Homo sapiens: one gene and its partners. The protein of the gene in region 3 purifies or fractionates together with the protein of the main gene of each other region. This does not show direct contact. Each region holds a gene or a part of one and is shown on either strand. Other genes may lie near its edges.

What was found. The genes of interacting proteins can lie anywhere in the genome.
Region 1: the proteins of GC (region 3) and CP purify together in Homo sapiens (affinity purification with mass spectrometry, with the first as the bait; one large-scale study listed by BioGRID). This does not show direct contact.
Region 2: the proteins of GC (region 3) and HPX purify together in Homo sapiens (affinity purification with mass spectrometry, with the first as the bait; one large-scale study listed by BioGRID). This does not show direct contact.

What each region holds. Positions count from the first base shown.
Region 1 is NC_000003.12:149,176,830-149,181,138, forward strand, and holds part of CP (ceruloplasmin precursor), read right to left. Parts: intron 2,834-4,309; coding exon 2,727-2,833; intron 1,803-2,726; coding exon 1,586-1,802; intron 1,151-1,585; coding exon 1,011-1,150; intron 1-1,010. UniProt on the Homo sapiens protein: Multifunctional blue, copper-binding (6-7 atoms per molecule) glycoprotein. It has ferroxidase activity oxidizing Fe(2+) to Fe(3+) without releasing radical oxygen species. It is involved in iron transport across the cell membrane.
Region 2 is NC_000011.10:6,434,488-6,438,796, forward strand, and holds part of HPX (hemopexin precursor), read right to left. Parts: intron 4,023-4,309; coding exon 3,869-4,022; intron 3,166-3,868; coding exon 2,953-3,165; intron 2,691-2,952; coding exon 2,559-2,690; intron 1-2,558. UniProt on the Homo sapiens protein: Binds heme and transports it to the liver for breakdown and iron recovery, after which the free hemopexin returns to the circulation.
Region 3 is NC_000004.12:71,759,335-71,764,453, forward strand, and holds part of GC (vitamin D-binding protein isoform 1 precursor), read right to left. Parts: intron 4,603-5,119; coding exon 4,470-4,602; intron 4,169-4,469; coding exon 4,074-4,168; intron 1-4,073. UniProt on the Homo sapiens protein: Involved in vitamin D transport and storage, scavenging of extracellular G-actin, enhancement of the chemotactic activity of C5 alpha for neutrophils in inflammation and macrophage activation.

The DNA of each region.
Region 1 (4,309 bases), on a different chromosome or scaffold from region 3:
GAGGCTGATGAAAACGACAAAAACCAGAGGCACTTCAGGGAGTCTCGGCTGGAAACAGTAGTTGGGTGACAATAGTCTATTTCTGCAAGGATAGAATTGAAAGCCCACTAAGAATACAATATATCTATGTAAAACAAAATGCAGGTAACAAAACAGGCTTTCTGCAGTATGCTTTTTGATAACTTCTGCCTTTTCTAAATTAGCCCAAAGCATAAGGAAAAAGCATTTCCAGGAGGGCCACTGGCTTCTGCTGAAATCAGTACTGAGAAAGAATAGAAGTAAGATTGAGATGTACAGACCAGTTGCTTGTCACCTAACTGATCTTGCTCACCATGGGCCATTTAAGATACAGAACTTAGAACAGGCAGGGCAAGGGTTATAATAAAGTCTTGTTGTGGTCTCTACTCTCATCCATCATTATGTGAACATTCCTACCCTCTTTGTTAGCAATTCCGCTCAGTTGCCTTAATCAGGAATCTGAGCAGAACTCCATGAAAATTCAGTTAAAAATGCAAATCCTAGGAAGAGCTCAATGTGTAACAAAGGCTAGTGTGTCAATTGAAATTGCTGTGCCTTATATAGGCATCCCTCAGTATCTATGGAGGATTGGTTTCAGGAATGCCCCCATACCAAAATCCATGGATGCTCAAGTCCCTTATATAAAATGGCATATTTCCATTTAACTTATGCACATCCTTCCATATACTTTAAATCATCTCTAGATTATTATAATACCTAATACAGTGCCTACATATCATTTCATTTGCATGGATTCAACATAGTACTCAGTGCAGCAGATCCAAGTTTTGCTTTTTGGAACTTAGTGGAATTATTTTTTCCTGAATATTTTCAATCCATGATTGAATCCTGGGTGGGGAATCCACGGATATGAAGCACCGGCTGTACTCTTTGCAGCTTTTTTTCATAAGTCTCTCTGAGAAAATATTTTCTTCACTTGTATTAAAACATTTTCAAACAGAGCAAGAGTAATTGCCATGGATAGCTCTTACCTTGTATTGGAAGCTATGGCCGTGAAAATGTACAGTGTGTAAGTCTATTTCATTGCCCATTCCCATCAGATACCAGTTGACTTCATCTCCCACGTGCATTGTGAGGCCTTGTAGGTTTCCAAACATTCTTCCATTAATAGCTAGGGAAAGCATATGGTTTTATGTTACTTTTCAGGATATTTTAAACCAATAGCTATTTCAAAGAAAATATGATTATTAGGTTAATGTAAAGAATCTTTTTGATGTAATAGGACTTATTTTACTACAAATGAGAGAAATGGATACTTTAAAGTCAATAATATCACATTGCTTTTCTAGGCACTTTGCACCAAAAGCCTTAATCTTAGTTTTGGATTATTTCAAAGGAAATGAGATTTTGGAATTGGAAAATAAATTAGCAAATGATTTTGAACATAGTCCCCTTTTTGTTTTGAACAGGATTCTACCTGACATACAAAGTGAGGCAGAAGTGGTTTATTTTAAGACAAAACAAATGAATGGTCTCCAAAATAATTTTATTTGAAAGAGAAAATGATAAAAAAGTAGAAAAATTGTTTTAGAATAATGTGACATACCATGCATTTTATTGCTTTCTATGAATTCCTCATCATCTTTGTTTACTTTCTCGGGGTGATCAGAGTATGTTTTGATGTTGTCATCTAAGTACCAAGATTCATTCTCATCAAAAACTAGAAACAGAAGGGCAAATTCCAGTTTCCTTCTGGGATTGAATACTTTCAAGTAAGGTCTTCGACAAACAATCAGGGGGCCAATTAATCCACTGTAGAGGTCCTGGAAACAAGAAAAATCTTCAGTAACCCTTGTGAATTAGGTCAGGATTTCAGAGAACTGAGACTTTGCACCCAGGGCCTCAGGAATTTTGGAGAGACCAATTGAAGTAACAGACTTTGCCCAATGTGGTACTGCCAATTTAGTAACTTTTCACTTGAAGTAGTTAAATTGGAACAATGGTGAGTAGTAGGTAGGTCATGTGGGTGATGCTGACATAACAGAAATGTCTGCAGAGGCAAAAATTAGCTCAGCTAATGAGCAGTGATTTTAAAAGAATCCCAAATGAACAGTGTTGGTTTGTTCCATAAACTCATGAACTCTTGAGTGTGAGCCAAGCGCTATGGCAGTCCCTAAAAATCCATAGATGAATGAAATGTGTAATAATAAATAGGACCACAAATACCAGATTTACTCATTTGTTTGAGCCAGAACACTGAATTATCAAGGAGCTACTTCCCCCGGCTCACTCAGGCACTTCACCCACCTATCTATAACCGACTCCATTTCTTTTCTCCCTCCTTACAGTAGAGGTCCTTGAAATTTGCCTCACGTATTACAACGGCCTCCCAACCTCCAGTCTCTTCCCCCTCCAAGCCTTCCTTCATTCCACCAGAATGAAGGATCTGAAATGCAAATATACTGCCATTCTTGGTCAATTTTTCAGTGGCTACCTGTGACCCACAAGACAAAAATCTAAACTTCCCAAATATCTTGAAAGGCCTTTGAGCTGTATCATATTAGGAAATGTTAGATTTTTGTCTTGTGTGTCATAGGTAGCAGCATAGTTGCTAAAGTAGATTGCAAACAGTTTATTTTCCTAGGATTTTAACGTAGAATTGGACCACAGGAAAACACTAACCTTGTCTTCCTTCAATTGTGTGTCTATTTTGGGAAGTGTCACAAAACAAATGATTTGTATTTTACCTTAACTTGATCCACAGTTGAATAATAAGCCCATGGAATACAAGCAGAATCCTCTGTTCCAGCTCCAGATCTTTCTGGGATTTTCCATACGTAAGTGAGAGTTTCACCTAAATTCATCAAGTGTTAATGGATCTGGTTGTATTTGGTTTATATTGTACACACACACACACACACACACACACACACACACACACAGCCTTGATAACTAGGACCCAGGAACTGGAAATGTCAGTGTAATTAGTTTTTAAAAATTGTGGTACTCAAGATTGTTTTCAGGAATTTAGTTTTAAGATGAACTGGAAGACAAAATTTTGTCATTTTTTGGGTTAATTTTAAATTAGCTATAACCCACTTGCCATACCACAAAGCTAGGAGGTGTGTACTTCAATATTACAATTTGAAAAAACTTTGCAACCAATCTCTTCTTAGCTTGAAGTGTGTTTTCCTAATATACTTTTTTCTCTTCAGATACCAAGTGATTTTTCCCCAGTGGCTGGCACCTTTCCCGTAATCTCTGCATGTGTGTATCTGGACTATTTTGTGTAATTCCCTCAGCTTCAGCATTGGCTTCCTTTCCTTGTCCTCTCTCATGATCATCCTTAGTGAGCTCATGATTCCTGGCGAGGAGCCGTTAGACCTCTTGATCTCATGAGTCACCGACTTGACACAGTTATGTTTACCTCCCCCTCCAGTCCATCTCATTCTATCACACCATGTGCTGTTTTGTCACTACTCCCACATACAGGACATAACCACACCCTCGGCCTTGGCATTTTGAAGACGACCAGTTGCTTCACCCTCCTGCTTTGCCAAGGCTCTTACCCTTTTCCCATGTGCTCTAGGCTTTTCTCCAGTCTGATCTGCGTTTCCATTCACCTCAGGGCTTCCTGTGCAACTGCTCACAGGCCTCAACTTTTGGCCATGCCCACTCACCAATCCCAGCCACACTCATTTTCCATCCCATTTATTTAGACCACACCATTACATATTCATGCTATCACACTAACCTGCCAGAGTCCAACAGACATTCACTAGAGAATCAAGCAAGACAACAGAGATGGTCTCAAGTGATGTGGTAGACGTCTTACTTTTTCTTCAAGCCTCAGTCTGAGCTGTTCCTATGTCCTCACCCTTTTTCTAAGCAGAAAATTTCACTAGAATATAAAGTATTGATTCACCACCTGCACATATTACTGTCTGGCCATCTCTGCTTTTACTTATTCTCATAAGCTGCAAAATAACATTTTCTTCTCTTTTCCACACCCCTTTACAACCTGCTCTTCCACCAGTGGTCAGTGCCCAAAACCTTGGGGTCATGCTTGACTCCTCTCTTCCCTAACACTCCCTAGTGCCCATTTTCCAGCAGGTCCTTTTAGTACCACCTTTAAAATGGAACCAGAATATGATAACATCTCACCACTTCAGCCGCTTCCACCATATTCCAAATCTCGATGATGATGATGATGATGATGATTTTACCCAGATTATTGCAGTGGTCCTTAACTGACCCCAGATTCTGTCCTTGCCCCCTTAGGGTCACTTAACCACACATCACCAACAGCCCCTTAAAAGGTGTCCATCAG
Region 2 (4,309 bases), on a different chromosome or scaffold from region 3:
CCTGGCTAATTTTTTGTATTTTTAGTAGAGATGAGATTTCACCATGTTGCCCAGGCTGGTCTAGAACTCCTGGACTCAAGTGATCTGCCCCCCTCGGCCTCCCACAGTGTTGGGATTATAGGCATGAGCCACCACACCTGGCCCAGGGGCCCTATTTTGAGAACCAGAGCTATGCTGCTTTGTGCAATGAAGTAAATGATGAGTTCCCAACCCATTAATGTAGCCAATACATAGGCTGGCAATCAACCACTTTAATGTGGTGTGGTCTGAAAATATGGACTGGGCCATTCAGATTCCCTCTCTGGAAATCTTACTAGGAAAAAAGAGCAACTGAGGGAGGTATCAGTTGGAACTGAGACTGAAAGATCATGAAGTAGTGAGAAAGTGGAGAGAACATGATGGTCCACGTGCAAGCCAAAGTTGTGAAGAAGCAAAGAGAATAGATAAAAACCTATGAGGGGCCAGGCGTGGTTGCTCATGCCTGTAATCCTAGCACTTTGGGAGGCCGAGGCAGGCGGATCACCTGAGGTCAGGAGTTCGAGACCAGCCTGGCCAACATGGTGAAACCCTATCTCTACTAAAAATACAAAAATTAAATTAATAAATAGTACATTGTAACCCAAAAAAAAATACAAAAATTAGCCAGGCATGGTGGTATGCGCCTGTAGTCCCAGCTATACGGGAGGCTGAGGCAGGAGGATCGCTTGAACCCAGGAGGCAGAGGTTGCAGTGAACCAAGATTGCGCCATTGCACTCCAGCCTGGGTGACAGAGTGAGACTCCATCTCAAACAACAGCAACAACAACAACAAAACTGTGAGTCAGAGAAAGAAAAATTTACCAGTGAGAGGGGAGGGACTGCCCCATGCTGTAGCTGGGTCATGTTGGTGATTTTACCAAAATAGTGCATTCTCACCTCAGCTAGGTATATATATATATATATGGGTTTTTTGTTTGTTTGTTTGTTTTGTTTTGTTTTTTGTTTTTGTTTTTTTTGAGACATGGTCTCACTCTGTCACCCAGGCTGGAGTGCAGTAGCACGATCACGGCTCACTGAAGCCTCGACCTTCCGGGCTCAGCCTCTGAAGTAGATGGGACTATAGGAACGCACTACCACACCCGACTAATTTTTATATTTTTTGTAGAGATGAGGTTTTGCCATGTTGCCCAGGCTGGTCTCAAACTCCTAGGCTCAAGCCGCTCAAGCAATCCACCTGCCTCAGCCTCCCAAAGTGCTAGGATTACAGGCGTGACTCACCACGCCCGGCCTGGGTATTTTTAATATAAGGTGTTCTCTCCATGCTGTGGGCTCTCTCAACAGCTATGGAACATACATGACATTTTTCATTTAGGAGTTCAGTAGCATTCTCATTATGGCCACATGGCCTTGAAGTTCTGTGATCTCTAGATGGCTTGGTGTCTCTCTCTATTTCTGTGTGTTTCCTGTGGCCCTGTTTTCACAATCTCTCACTCACTCTCTCTCTCTTTCTGCATTTCACTTTGTCTGTGTGTCCTCCCAATGGGCTCCCACCATGGCTGTGTGTTCTCTTGATACTTATGTGTTCTTACTATGGCGTATGTTCTCAGTTTAATGTTGTATTTTCACTACAGGTGTGTGTTTCATCTTAGCTGTATGTTCTTATTATAGTGTGCAATCCTGCTGTGGAGATTTGCTCTCCATGTGGTGATGTATTTTTCAACAGAACTTGATAGTCATAACTGGTCAAATTTGTCCAAGGGTCAGGAGCCAAAAAAATTTTGTGTGAAAAAAATATTTTCACGATTTTATATTCTTACCACTGTCCTAATTATACATATATCTCAGGTTGGATGTGATGTGGTTGCTCACTCCTCTTGGGGATATTCTCAACTGTGCAGCATGACTATTTACTGCCTGACTGAACTCAGAACAGCCCTAGGTATTATTAGATGGCTTTTACCAATTGATGCCACGGGTCAAGGGAGGGGTATCTCCATTGGCTACTCAGAGGAGAAACCTCCAGAGGCTAGTGAAGCCAGCCTCTAAAGGTCTAAAGTACCCAACACTTCTCAGCTGGTTCTCAGCAATGAGAACATCTCATCCCCAGGCAGTGCTATGCCCAGGGGTCTGGACATAGGAACCAGGAACCTGAAACAAGATGGAGTTCTGAGGATAAATCAGGGGGAGCCAGAGGACTCAGAAAGATATGCAAGAACAAAGGGAGGCAAGGAGGTACAGAGACACATAGAGGTCCAGGGAGCAAGGGAGAGCCAGAGGGCTCAGCAGGGCATTGAGCAAGGAGAACACAAGGAGTCATAGGGGCCCAGAGAGGTCCACAGGGGGCACAGCCATGGGAGTAGATGGTAGACAGGTAGATGAAGTTAGGGGCTTGGGCCGTGACAGACAAGATTGAGAAATATGCCTCAGAGATGAGGGATGCAGAAGGGCATGCAGAAGGATGGGGACAGAGGGGACAAAATAAGTGACACAGTGATGACAATGGAGAAATGTGTCAAGGATGGGAGATACAAGTAAAAGAGATGTGAGAGCACATTGGGGGAGTTGGGGGCATCTCTCACCACTGAAGGCATAGGTGGCACCATGGTTGTCAGACGTCAGTGCAGACAAGACTAGATGTGGGCTACAGCGCATATACTCAGGGCCATGGTGGGTACTGTTCCCATGGCCAGTCCCATTCCTGTGTCCATGGCCTGGAGAGAGAAATGGGTGAGGAGAACACAGAAGGAGGCCAGAGGTCAGAGTGAGGTCCAAGGTGGAAGAGATGGCTGGGGTTAGTGGGGTGTGGGTTTCCCCATATGAGGGCAATGGGAAAATCCAGAATGGAAATGGGGCTAGATTAAGGGCCAAGGTGTCGCAACACGGAGTTAAAGTGAGAGCTAGGACACGTGAGATCCACAAGCTCAGGGAAAGTGGATGAATTCTGACAGGTCTCAAGTGCTAGGGCTTTCTCACCTCTGCCAGGGCAGGGCATGAAGTAGTCTCGGACATCCCGCGGGTACCTGGGAGGCACCTCTCCCCTGACAGGGTCGAAGCGCAGGAATTGGTTACCCTGGAAGCAGTAGTAGCGGCCCAGCCATCTCAGGGCAGAGGAGCAGTTCCCAACAGCTGGCCAGGAACGCTCCTTCATGGTTCCCGTAGCCAAGTCCCAGAACCACTCGCGGTCACCTTTGTCCAATCAATCAACAGGCATTTGGTGAGACCGGGTTACGCCCTCCTTTGTGCTTTCTCTGGGTCCCAGGATGGGCCAGATAATGGTACTGACCACATGGAGCTCACAGCCATCAGAGAGATGGCTAAAGGAGGGTGATCATACACCAAAATTCAGCAGCAAAACACACAGGATCAGCTCAGCAAAGGCAGTGGGGAGAGTCTGGGAAAACTTCCCAGGGAAGATGATACTTAAAGTGAAATCTGAAGTAGGAATTAAAAGGCACACAAGGAGAGATGGAACCCCAGAGAGAGGAAAGATTCCAAAGCATGGAGCAAACTGAGTGTACAGAGAATAGCATAGGGTTTCTGGAGCTTAGTGTTAAGGTAAAAGTATAATAAAAGTCAAAGCTGAAGGGCCAATAGGGATTTGGCCATGGAGAGACTTGTATGTAAGACTAAAGAGGGTAGATTTGTCCTAAGGGTCATGGGGAACAATGAGGGACTATTCACACAGAATTACACACAGTTGCCTTCACCAGAATGACTTCCTCTCCTTCCCTCACGTGACCTCTAGACCATACGTGGCTTCTCTATTTCCCTTCCTTAAAAAGCCACATAGTGGCTCCACCACCACCATCACTACCACTATCACCATCACTACTGGCATCACTACCAACCCACCACTACTCCAGGTTCTTGGATTCCAGCCTGGACTGACCTTGGAAGAAGAGGACGCCTTCAGCTTGACATTCTCCACGGTGACATTCCACAGCTGCATCCAGTGGGGATGGGATTCCAGGAAATTCATCTTGGAGCAACTTTGGGTATCCTTTCTCCTTCTTTTCAGGAGGGTATACCCAGACTTTGTCCCCCTGCATTCAAAAGTACTCTCTTTTTGACTGTGCATCCCCAGATACTGCCACTCTGCATTTACACACATTTTTTATCTACTGTGCTTATACGATATCCTCCTGTGGCCCTACACATTCTCAGTCCATCTGTGGACAACAATGTGCTGTCCTTTTGCACATTACACACTCTCAGTTTGTGCAAATCCAGTCACTATTACTATAACACACATGCCTCTAGCTCTGTACCCAGACACTCCTGTGGCACATTTATCTGCAACACTATCAGTGTTGACAAACATATCCACAAC
Region 3 (5,119 bases):
TTTTAATGTTTTGAGGGACTTCCATACTGTTTTCCATAATGATTGAACCACTTTACATTCCTACCAACAGTGTACAAGCGTTCCAATTTCTATGCAACTTTGCTAACATTTGCCAATTTCTGTTCTTTTGATAGTGATTATCCTAATGGGTATAAGGTGATACCTCACTGTAGTTATGGTTTGCATTTCCCCCATCCAATTATTATACTAACTAGGCCTGACCCTGCTTAGCTTCTGAGATCAGACAAGATTGGGCGTGTTCAGAGTGGTATGGCGGTAGACTTGATTTGCATGTATCTTAAGGTTAGTGACGTTGAGCATCTTTTCATATGTTTATTGGACATTAGTATATTTTGTTTCAATAATTGTTTATTCAAGTCTTTTACCCCTATTTTAATTAAGCTACTTGTTTTTTTGTTATTGACTTATAGAAGTTCCTTATATATTCCGAATATTAAACCCTTATCAGATAGCTAAATCTGTTCATAGCAAATGCTATTTCCTTGAAGTACATTTCTGGACATGAATACAAGTATCACTTAATGATTATATAAGTAATATATATGGTGGCTTTATATTAGAAATTCCCTCTGTTCTGCCTGTCAAACTACTATCTCTACGTAAAAGGAAAACTAAAGAAAGGACTAGAGAAACTGTCATTGAGTATTCAAGTAGTTCTGAGGAACTGTTATATTTAAAGAAACTAGTTTTTTTTTTTTTTTTTTTGAGACGGAGTCTCGCTCTGTCGCCCCAGGCTGGAGGGCAGTGGTGCAATCTTGGCTTACTGCAAGCTCTGCCTCCCAGGTTCATGCCATTCTCCTGCCTCAGCCTCCTGAGTAGCTGGGACTATAGGCGCCCACCACCATGCCTGGCTAATTTTTTTTTTTTTTTGTATTTTTAGTAGAGACGGGGTTTCATCGTGTTAGCCAGGATGATCTCGATCTCCTGACCTTGTGAACCACCTGCTTTGGCCTCCCAAAGTGCTGGGATTACAGGTGTGAGCCACCGTGCCTGGACAAGAAAGTAGTTTCTATTCCCATTACGGAAGCTTATTATGCATTGCTGGCAAGAAGTTCTTTGATTATCATTAGAGGAAAAAAACTTGTGAGGATAGTAGAAGGAATCAAAGAGACTGTAAGTATGGAGGGAAAAAAAGTTGGCAAATCTAGATGTTTGAGAAAGTATGAGAGAAGTGCAGCATAGAAACTATCAAAATTAAAATACAAGTTAACAGTAGTCATACAAAAATCAAAGTGAAGGTTGCAAATATAAGGTTGATATGGTTTGGCTATGTCCCCACACAAATCTCATCTTCAATTGTAACTTACACAATTCCCACAGGTGGTGGGAGAAACCTGGTGGGAGGTGATTGAATCATGGGGGTGGGTCTTTCCTGAGCTGTTCCCGTGACAGTGAATGAGTCTCACAAGATCTGATAGTTTTGAAAACAGGAGTTTCTCTGCACAAGCTCTCTCTTTGCCTGCGACCATCCATGTAAGATATGATTTGCTCCTCCTTGCCTTCCACCATGATTGTGAGGCCTCCCTAGCCATGTGAAACTGTGAGTCCAATTAAACCTCTTTCTTTGTAAATTGCCCAGTCTCAGGTATGTCTTTATCAGCAGCATGAAAACAGATTAATACAGTAAATTTGTACCAGGAGTGCGGTGCTGCTGAAAAGATACCCGAAAATGTGGAAGTGACTTTGGAACTGGGTAACAGGCAGAGGTTGGAACAGTTTGGAGGGCTCAGAAGAAGACAGGAAAATGTGGGAAAGTTTGAAACTTCCTAGAGACTTGTTGAATGGCTTTGCCCAAAATGCTAATAGCGATATGGACAATAAGGTCCAGGCTAAGGTGGTCTCAGATGGAAATGAGGAGCTTTTTGGGAACTGGAGCAAAGGTGACTCTTGTTATGTATTAGCAAAGAGACTGGTGACATTTTGCCCCGGCCCTGAAGATCTGTGGAACTTTGAACTTGAGGAAAATAATTTAGGATATCTGGCAGAAGGAATTTCTAAGCAGCAAAGCATTCAAGAGGTGAATTGAGTGCTGTTAAAGGCATTCAGTTTCAAAAGGGAAGCAGAGCATAAAAGTTCAGAAAATTTGCAGCCAGACAATGTGAGAGAAAAGAAAAGCCCTTTTTCTGAGGAGAAATTCAAGCTGGCTATAGAAATTTGCATAAGTAACAAGGAGCTGAATGTTAATCCCCAATACAATGGGGGAAAATGTATCCAAGACATGTCAGAAGTCTTCACAGCAGCCCATCCCATCACAGGCCTGGAGACCTAGGAGGAAAAAGTGGTTTCTTGGACCAGGCTCAGGGTTCCCGTGCTGTGTGCAGTCTAGGTATTTGGTGCCCTGCATTCCAGCTGCTCCAACCATGGCTGAAAGGGGCCAATGTAGAGCTTGGGGCATGGCTTCAGAGAGTGTAAGCCTCAAGCCTTGACAGCTTTCATGTGGTGTTGAGCCTGCGGATGCACAGAAGTCAAGAATTGGGTTTTGGGAACTTCCACCTAGATTTCAGAGGATGTATGGAAACACTTGGATGTCCAGGCAGAGGTTTGCTGCAGGGGCAGGGCTCTCATGGAGAACCTCTGCTATGGCAGTGCAGAAGGGAAATGTGGGTGTGGAACCTCCAAATAGAGTCCCTACTGGGGCACTGCCTTATGGAGCTATGAGAAGAGGGCCACCGTTCTCCAGACCCCAGAATGGTAGATCTACTGACAGCTTGCACTGTGCACCTGGAAAAGCCACAGATGCTCAATGACAGCCTTTGAAAGCAGCTGGGAGGGAGGCTGTACCCTGCAAAGCCACAGAGGTGGAGCTGCCCAAGACCATGGGAATATGCCTGTTGCAGCAACGTGAGCTGGATATGAGACATGGAGTCAAAGGCGATCATTTTGGACCTTTAAGATTTGACTGCCCCACTGGATTTTGAACTTGCATGGGGCCTGTAGCCCCTTTGTTTTGGCCAATTTTTCCCATTTTTAATGGCTGCATTTACCCAATGCCTGTACCCCCATTGTATCTAGGAAGTAACTAGCTTGCTTTTGATTTTACAGGCTCATAGGCAGAAGGGACTTGCCTTGTCTTGGATGAGACATTGTACTGTGGACTTTTGAGTTAATGCTGAAGTGAGTTAAGACTTTGGGGGACTGTTGGGAAGGCATAATTAGTTTTGAAATGTGAGGACATGAGATTTGGGAAGTGCCAGGGGTGGGATGATATGGTTTGGCTGTGTCCCCACACAAATCTCATCTTGAATTATAACTCCCACAATTTCCACATGTCATAGGAAGAAACCAGTGGAAGGTGATTAAATTATTGGGGTGGGTCTTTCCTGTGCTGTTCTCATGATAGTGAATGAGTTTCATGAGATCTGATCGTTTTAAAAACAGGAGTTTCTCTGCACAAGCTCTCTCTTTGCCTGCTGCCATCCACGTAAGATGTGACTTGCTCCTCCTTGCCTTCCACCATGATTGTGAGGCCTCCCCAGCCATGTGGAACTGTTAGTCCAATTAAACCTCTTGCTTTTGTAAATTCCCCAGTTTCGGGTATGTCTTTATCAGCGGAGTGAAAATAGACTAATACAAAGGTAGATAACTAATGAGAATAAATTAATGAAGGGCAAGAGATATATACTGTATAGCACAAGTCTTCATACAACAAGTAAGAATTCAGATGTCTCATTCCAAGAAAAATTGGGCAAGGCAAATAATAGGTAATAAACAAAAGGTTGTGTTTTTTTGGTTTGTTTTTGTTCTTGTTTTGCTTTTTTGTTTGTAACATATGCTAATATGAACACTGAAAAAATATTTTCTAGTGGTCAACTATATGGAAAAGATTGATTAAAAGCAAATCTCATGTTTTATGACATAAACTTTTTCCTTATTTTTCATAATCTGTATAGAGAAAAGAAAACGAGAATTTGGCCAGATTTTTGGAGATTATTGGAGCTGAAAAGTCTATTTTATATCTTTCAATATAGACAGCTTCTTAAAAAAACCCTAATATTATGGATAGACAGTGCAGAACCAAACATCTAAATATGACAATAGCACTTAATCTTTACCTGAGCCTTGATTTCTTCTCCCCATAAGCAGCATATTGTGAGCAGACTCTATTTGACAGAGTGGTGAGAAGTGATAAATGTTTAAGCTGGAGTCTCTAGAAAACAAGTGAAAGAATCTCATTATATGGTCAAGACTCATTGAATACTGTATAAATGGCAAAAATAGGGACTATTAATTTCATGATTTTTTAATGAATAGGAAACTGAACACTGGTGAAAGGAACTTATTGATATTACTTTTCCAGAGGTATTACATTTATTTTCCAATTAAGAAGATGCAAGGGTGGCATTTTAGAAACTTTTACTGATTGCAAAATCTCAATTTCTACCATTATCTAAAAGGAATGCTATTAGAAGAAAAAAACGTAAACATATAATAAGTAAAATGGGACATACCTCTTTCAAAAAGCATACAGTTGGGCTTGCAGAGGTACAGCAGGACCCTACCATAGAAAGATAACTCTTGGTGTAACTGACTAAAAGTGACAGAGGAGCTTGTCCGTAATTAGTGGAATATTCCCACATAAATCTGTGGAGGAAAAAATAGAATTGGTCAAAAAATTTGTGAATAAACAAAATCTACTTTTTTATTTGAGACAGTGTCTTGCCCTGTCATCTAGGCTGGAGTACATGGTATAATCATAGCTCACTGCAGTCTCAACCTCCTGGCCTCAAGCGATCCTCCTGCTTCAGCTTCCTGAGTAGCTGGGACTACAGGTGCATGCCACCATGCTCATCTAATTTTTTAATTTCTTGTATAAATTAGGTCTCACTAATTGTCCCAGGTTGGTCTTGAACTCCTGGGCTCAAGTGATCCTCCGACCTCAGCCTCTCAAAGTGCTAGGATTACAGATGTGAGCCACCATGCTTGGCCCCCAAAACCTACTTTTTAGTAAGTATTTTGATGGACAAAGGATATATGTTACATTAATTTATAGTTTTAATATCTAAAAAACACTAAGAATTTAGAGAAAAGGTTATAATACTGGCCACTATTAATCAGTATATTCATTCATTAAAAATAGATTTACAAATTTCTATGTGGT